Homo sapiens: one gene and its partner. The protein of the gene in region 1 purifies or fractionates together with the protein of each later gene. This does not show direct contact. Each region holds a gene or a part of one and is shown on either strand. Other genes may lie near its edges.

The links. Proteins that work in one complex are often made in the same cells at the same time.
Region 2: the proteins of NCF2 (region 1) and USP47 purify together in Homo sapiens (affinity purification with mass spectrometry; 2 studies listed by BioGRID and IntAct, with this or other methods). This does not show direct contact.

The regions. Positions count from the first base shown.
Region 1 is NC_000001.11:183,569,823-183,573,573, forward strand, and holds part of NCF2 (neutrophil cytosol factor 2), read right to left. Parts: intron 3,471-3,751; coding exon 3,363-3,470; intron 1,018-3,362; coding exon 958-1,017; intron 1-957. UniProt on the Homo sapiens protein: Subunit of the phagocyte NADPH oxidase complex that mediates the transfer of electrons from cytosolic NADPH to O2 to produce the superoxide anion (O2(-)).
Region 2 is NC_000011.10:11,935,823-11,939,573, reverse strand, and holds part of USP47 (ubiquitin carboxyl-terminal hydrolase 47), read right to left. Parts: intron 3,272-3,751; coding exon 3,064-3,271; intron 1,318-3,063; coding exon 1,202-1,317; intron 1-1,201. UniProt on the Homo sapiens protein: Ubiquitin-specific protease that specifically deubiquitinates monoubiquitinated DNA polymerase beta (POLB), stabilizing POLB thereby playing a role in base-excision repair (BER). Acts as a regulator of cell growth and genome integrity.

The DNA.
Region 1 (3,751 bases):
CAAGTGATCTGCTCACCTCAGCCTCCCAAAATGGTGGGATTATAGGCGTGAGCCACTGTGCCTGGCCACTTCTGAGTATTTAAAATTGACACAGGATCCACTGACTGGGCAAGAATCTCCTCCCCTGTTCTACACTGAATACCATGGAATCCAGTTACCTGGGCTGCATTCCCCTCATGGCCTCTGGCTGAACTGAAGCTCAAGGGACTTCAGCAAGGCTTTCATCAGCTTTATTGTGAAGAAAGAGATCAAGGAATCTAGATCTGGAACATACCTGCCCCTGCTCAGAAAACCGCCCTCTGCTAGTGCTGACCAACACTCTTGCCCATCACAGGTTCATTGCCACAGAGTTCGTATTTTCCTTAATGTGTTTTCCCCTCTTTCCTTCACAAGGAAGCTCTGTGTGCATTTCTAGATCCACTATCATCCAGTTCATCTGAGCTCACCTCTCCAAGCCCAGCTTGGGCAGAAAAAGGGTTCACTCTCAGTGCGCTGCCTGTGTTCCCGAAGGAAACCCCTGCACATGAGCAGATGGGTAGAGCCAGGAGAGCCCAAACCTCAGGCCCAGGCCCCACAGGGTTCCCCACTTGCCCCTGTACTCAAGAAGAGGCTTTGTTAATAAGCCTTCCATAGCTTGTGTTTCAGCTTCCTGAGAGAATAGTTGAGGCTTCAGAGAGAGGATCAGCAGATCTCTTTAGAGATGTGAAGACCGGCATTTGTGGGGAAGCAGGAGAGTTAGCTTCAGAGGACTTGGGGTGAAGCCTGACACTGCCTTATTTCCTCACCAGCCATGGAAACCAGGACTGAGAGAGGGCAGGCAGATCCCTCAGCTGCACTGAGGGCCACTTGAAGGAGCCCTTACAATCAGGCAACTCAGCACACATAGTCTCTCGAATTGAATGCTTCACAGAAAGCTCTCGAGACCTAGGTCCATGGAGAAGGTCAGGACTGCCTTACCTGTGGTTGCAGAGGGGCAAACCCAGAGAAACTGTCTTGATCCACCACAGATGCCACGACCTAAAATCAAGGACAGGAGGGTGTGAGGCTCTGCCAGCACTGTTTCCATTCTTCTGGGTCTCCCTCTTTGCTCATGCCCTAGACCTGTTCTTACGTGAGCCTGGTTTCAGACGTGGACAGTAACTAAGGATTAGATTCCTGAGCCTCTGGATTAGGATTTCAGCAACTGAAGAAACGAGCATTCACCCCACCCCTGCTAACACAGGCTTGCTTTCTTCTCTCTTAAAAAAGAAATGTTTTTAATTGAGGTGCAATTTGTATAACATCAAATTATCTTTTTTTTTTTTTTTTTTTTTGAGACGGAGTCACGCTCTGTTACCCAGACTGGAGTGCAGTGGCGTGATCTCAGCTCACTGCAACCTCTGCCTTCCAGGTTCAAGTGATTCTCCTGCCTCAGCCTCCCGAGTAGCTGATATTACAGGCACCCGCCACTGTGCCCGGCTAATTTTTGTATTTTCAGTAGAGACAGGTTTTCACCATGTTGGCCAGGCTGGTCTCAAACTTCTGACCTCAGGTGATCTACCCATCCAGCCTCCCAAAGTGCTGGGATTATAGGCATGAGCCACCACGCCCAGCCCAAATTAATCATTTTAAAGTGAATGATTCAGTGGCATTTATCACATTCACAATGCTGTGCAACTACTGCCTCTCTCTAATTCCAAAATATTTTCATCACCTCAGAAGAAAATGCTGTACCCATTAAGCAGTGTGTCCACACTCCCCTTTCCCCTAAACTGGCAACAACCGGTTTGCTTTCTGTGACTGACTTGAGCCCTCTTCTCTGAGTTTTAAAAATCAGATGTAAAGCTAGCTTTATTCACAAATATGCTTAAACTATAGATAATTTTCATCATTCATTCATATAATCAAAACATTTTTGCTGAGAGCTGTTATGTGTCTAGCACTGTGCCAGGCTGTGAGGACTCAGTGGAGATCAAGCAGACATGGTCTCTGCTCTCTCAGTGCTTAGAGGCTGCACCAGATATTTCCTATAAACGGAATTGTACAACATGTGGCCTTTCGTATCTGGCTTCCTTCACATAGCATAATGTTTTCAAGGTCCATCCATGTTGTATCATGAATCATACTCCATTCCTTTTTATGGCTACGTAGTATTCTGTTGCATGGATATATCACATTTTGATTACTCATTCATCAGTTGATAGATATTTGGAGGGCTTCCACTCACCCAGGCTTTCTTGACCTCTGCTGCTATGCTAGACCCAGCTACCCGACCACTGGGCAACTTTAGCCCTATGAATGTGTCAAGTCAAATGTGGTTTTGGAAGGGCACTGCTGACTCACTTCAGACCATGTCTGAAAGAATTTAAGACTTGGATTTATTATTATTATTACTATTTTGAGATGGAGTTTCATTCTTGTTGCCCAGGCTGGAGTGCAATGGCATGATCTCAGCTCACTGCAACCTCCACCACCCGGATTCAAGCGATTCTCCTGCCTCAGCCTCCCAGGTAGCTGGGATTACAGGCATGCACCGCAGCACCCAGCTAATTTTGTATTTTTAGTAGAGATGGGGTTTCACCATGTTGGCCAGCCTGGTCTTGAACTCCTGACCTCGTGATCCACCTGCCTCAGCCTCCCAAAGTGCTGGGATTACAGGCATGAGTCACCATGCACAGCCAAGACCTGGATTTAGAAGAAGTCCAATTTAAGACATAGTCTAAACATAGGGCTGTGGAAGTGGGGAAAGACTCCTCAGCCCACTAAAACGTGAACTACAAGGAGCATTAATCCAAGAGGATCCCATGCTGATCTCTTTCCCTAACATGTTCTCTTCATATTTATTTTTATTTTTTAGAAACAGAGTCTCAATCTGTTGCCCAAGCTAGAGTACAGTGGTGCAATCATAGCTCACTGTAGCCTTGAACTCCTGGGCTCAAGTGATCCTCTCACCTCAGCCTCTCCACTAGCTAGGCTGGTCTCAAACTCCTGGCCTCAAGTGATCCTCCCACTTCAGCCTTCCAAAGCACTGGGATTACAGGCATGAGCTACCCTGCCTGGCCCTCTCTTCACATTTAGTGAGCTCCTCATGGCTGTGTTTTCCCTCCATTGGCTCAGTCCCTAAGACTCAGCATCCTGTGAGTAACCCTGTGGCTCTCACCCAGGGTCGAGCTGGAAGGGAGAAATGGGAGCAGCTTGGAGAAAATAAACTAGACATGGTTGCCTATCTTTCAGCCAAACCTCTGTCCTATAAACAAGTCTCTCATTGCCATCCCAGGGACAGAGCCACAAGGAGGCTACCCTCTTCTCAAGAGTCCCTCCCACCTTGCTCCACATGGCCCGGGCCACAGGAGACTCAGGGGAAGCTGAGCAATCCCACCTACCGTCGCCTTGCCTAGGTAATCCTTCTTGGCCAGCTGAGCCACTTGTCTCTCATTTGGTCGAAACAGCTTGCCCACAGGGATCACCACTGGCTCATATAGCTTCTGCTTCTGTAACACAGAAAACGTAGCATTCCCTTATGTGAAAATGGGGGTGACGATGCTTGTCCTGCCTCCCTCAGTGAATAGATGCAAGAATTCATTGAGATAACCACATAGAAGCCCTTTTCCAAATGAGTGTTGTCATTCCTCTAGGGTGTTAAGGTAGGAACCCTTGGTTTCAATACCACCTTCTGCTGCGAGGCCACATGGACATTGCTGCTATTTGTTGCTATTCAGCACCCTCTTTTCCCAGAGGAACTGCTCCTCTCCCACTCTGTGTGCTGTCCGTG
Region 2 (3,751 bases), on another chromosome or scaffold:
ATTTAATCATAAAATATAATTTCACAAAATGATTTGTTTCTTGGTTATTACTTTAGCAAAATTGTTAGAAGTCATATACAGAAGTCAAAATATAGACTTTTTTTTAGAACATAATAACCACCAACTCTTACATAATGCCTTACAATTTTTTTCCTCAGAGCATTTATTTATTTTTCATTAATGTTCACTACAACTCTGCTAAACAGGTATTTACAACCCCAGATAATGAGATGAAAGACAAGACTACCATAAGATGAATGACTGAAAACTGGACTCAACTTGTAATTATGGAACAATTTCCACTACACCAGGGAATATTAACCTACGGTTCAAGAACCCTGCAAAATCTGCCGTTTGTATGCTCAGGGTTCTGCAGAGTACAGGACCCTTGTAAGGATGATAATCATTTGTCTGGTGTGGACTAATCCTTTTGCCCCCCAAAATTTGAATGTTTTCATTGTTATATTTTTCCAGCTCAAAAAATCGGAATGAGCCTATGTTCTTTATCACTAGCTCACATAATGGCACCAGTATTTAATTCATCACCTTCCCTGTCAAGTCTACAGCCTCACCTTCCTCCTCTATTTCTATTAATGTATCCCTACTTTTCTGGTTACCCAAGTTTGAAACCCCTGGCTCAGGTCATCGGTGCATCTGCTTTACCCCAACATTTAACAATTACAAGTCCTACAGATTCTATCTCTCTTGGAATCCATGCCTTCTCTCATTTCCAGTCATACAACTGCACTTGAATTATTTCAACAGCTTCCTCCTCTCCATTCCTGACTCCCCTCAAGGCATGTGGAACGCTAGTCTAGTGTCACCAGACACTAAATGCAGCATTGCCGCACTTAAAAATGACGAAAACAAAAACTCGACTTATTGCCTACGCCAAAAAGGAGCCCAAACTTTCGTGTTTACTGTTTAAAGCTCTTCATGAAATAAACTGTACTTACATTTCCAATCCTGTATTTTATGATAATCCAGCCAACACATATAAGTTGTTATATGTACTTGCCTTACACTTTCTTACCTCCACACTTTACTCAATCTGTTTCTTTTAACTACAGTTGTCTCCTAACTACAAATATTAATTAGCTCCTGGAGGTAAAGCATGTATCTTATTCATAACTGTCACATAGTGTGTCTTGTACATAGCAGGCTCTCAAAAATTTATTTACAGACCCCTTTTAAAACTTACCTTTGAAATCAGTTGTTTGAATTCTGTAACTGTCTGATTTAAGTAAGCACGAACAGTTATAGGAGCAGCTACAGATTCTGCCTTTAGATCAACAACATGAACTTTCACCATCACTTCTGTCACATTTGAAGACATAAACACAGAATTGGAGGTTATTTTTTAATGTATTTCACATGAGTAATGCATTCTTAATGTGTTTCTAACAGGTGACAAATCCAAACTTCCAAGTACAGATGAAAACAACACTGAATAAATATAAATCACCAGTTACTGCAAAACAAATATTAAAGGTGACACAGCACTCCTGCTTGCTTTTGAACAAACCCCTTATTAAGCCACCTTGTTCATCATCAAAGACTTATCCTCAAAATAATATTTCCTATATCCCAAGGAAAATTCCACACAAAAACTGTTCTGATTATGCCTTTGTTTTCTCACTTAAATCTTTTATATTGAAATTTAATCCCATTCTCTTCTGTTTTCAGAAGGTTATGTTTACAATTAAACTCTTAATCACTTGAAAAATAAATGATCTTCAAACATTGTACTTAATACACAGTTATTCTGTATCTGTTTTAACCTCATGTTTTATGTCAATCCTCAGTTTTTTCCCTACGTTGTTAATCTAAATTTGACAAAATATTCTGCTAAGATCTTGATTATTAATGAATAAAGACTACTTTATAAGTCTTACAATCCACACTTGCATTTAGAGTTCTCTTTCAAATAAGTGGTATTACTGCTGACTCATGTTATATCCTAATCATTCTTTTTCTTGTCTAGCAAAAAAAAAAAAAAAGCAAGGAAATGTCCTTAAGGGACTCTTTATAGATAGGGTAGAGTCTTAGAAGTCGAAGTAGACATCATAAGGTTTCCAGAAATAAAATTTTCCCACTTAAGAGCCGTAGACTCCTTGAAAGAATACTACATCTAACCTACTCTGTAAACAGAGGCCTTCATTTAAAAAGGAGATATACAGGATCCACAGAAGAACATTATTGTAAAAGGGCAGAATAAAGTTTTGTAAGTTCAACTTTTAGGGAAAAAACACAGAGAACCTAATTCTCACTAACCACTGATGCAAAGGAGTTAGGGCCAAGACAAAACAGTATGGATTTTGTAAAATTATATAAACATTCTGCTTTTCTTCTATTTGTTACAATTTACATATGGTAATTATAGAAAACTCTGGACAAAAACAGACCATGTAACTGTCTATAGGGAAACTGTCTCTGGGAAAACTAGGGGCATGATATTTTGGTTTTCCTAAGCAGTCTCAAAGAAAAAAAAATAACAAACTCAATGTGCTGAGTGAATGTGATAGATTTAATGAAGAAAGAAAAGATGAAGTCCCTGGGACCTGTAGAAATAGAGAGGATGACGAAAAATTGTAAATGCTGACAGTGATGGGATAATGAATCCACCCTTCCAAAGAAGACCTGAAAAACAGCCTCTACTTCTGAGACTTTATGGGAATATACTTTTTTGGACCAAGGTCTTCTCCATAAAGAGAAAGAAAGAGAAAGAGAGATCTTCCTAAGAGAGCAATTGATAACTTTAGGGATTGACAGCATCCAGAATGATTCAGTACCGCCCACTGGAGAAGAAAAAACCCACTGAAGACCGTAAGCTAGAAGCTTTGTTGTTTTTTGTTGTTTTTAAAATTATGTACACAACTCTTTGCAAGTAATCTAGAACTTAATTCCAAGCTGTTGCTGAGTACTTCTCAACCTGTCAAAATTATTCTACATTTTAAGACCATATACAAAATTTAAATTATGTTCATTTCTACAATAAAAAAAAAAACTTTCTCATGAAAATTCTAAGTACAGAACAACTAAAAATAGTGTAAAATTGCTCACCTCCAGGTTTATAAGATTGGAAAACCTGATCAGGCTTTCTCGTCTCCAACAGCAGATCAAACATATATGTTGACTTGACGCCACCTAGTAGAAGCCCCATTGGTGTATCTTCTTCTCCTTCATATGACCGTTCTAGATAATCATGAAACTCATCATATTTAACAAGGCGACAGCAATCCAGGGGTATTACCTCTTCTAAATCCATCATCTAAAAGAAAGTAATCCCCCAGAAAGAAAAAATATATATACATATATATTTATATATATACATATATAAATACACAGTGTTTTAGTCTGTTGGGGAATAACATTACAATAGGCCCTAACAAAATCCACACATTTATGATTTGCATCAAAGACATCAAAGTTACAGGCACAACTTAAATGTTATTTTTAAATAATTATGTTTCATTATCCCTCCAATCATATAAAGCATGTACTAAATACATTTTTTATTTTTTAAAAAGTTAACATCATAAACTTTAGGTGTAGAAACAAAATCAATGTATTGTAACTATTGTTCATAATCAACTAATCTGGAAACACAGAGGAAAACAACCAAACAGCCAACTAGAATATGCACCTTTTGTTTTCTTAATCCAATCTGGAGTAGAATTGATAATTCATGTAACTAGTAACAATCTAAGTACAGGAGGACAGCATGTCTCATAAAGCCATCACAAAGGGT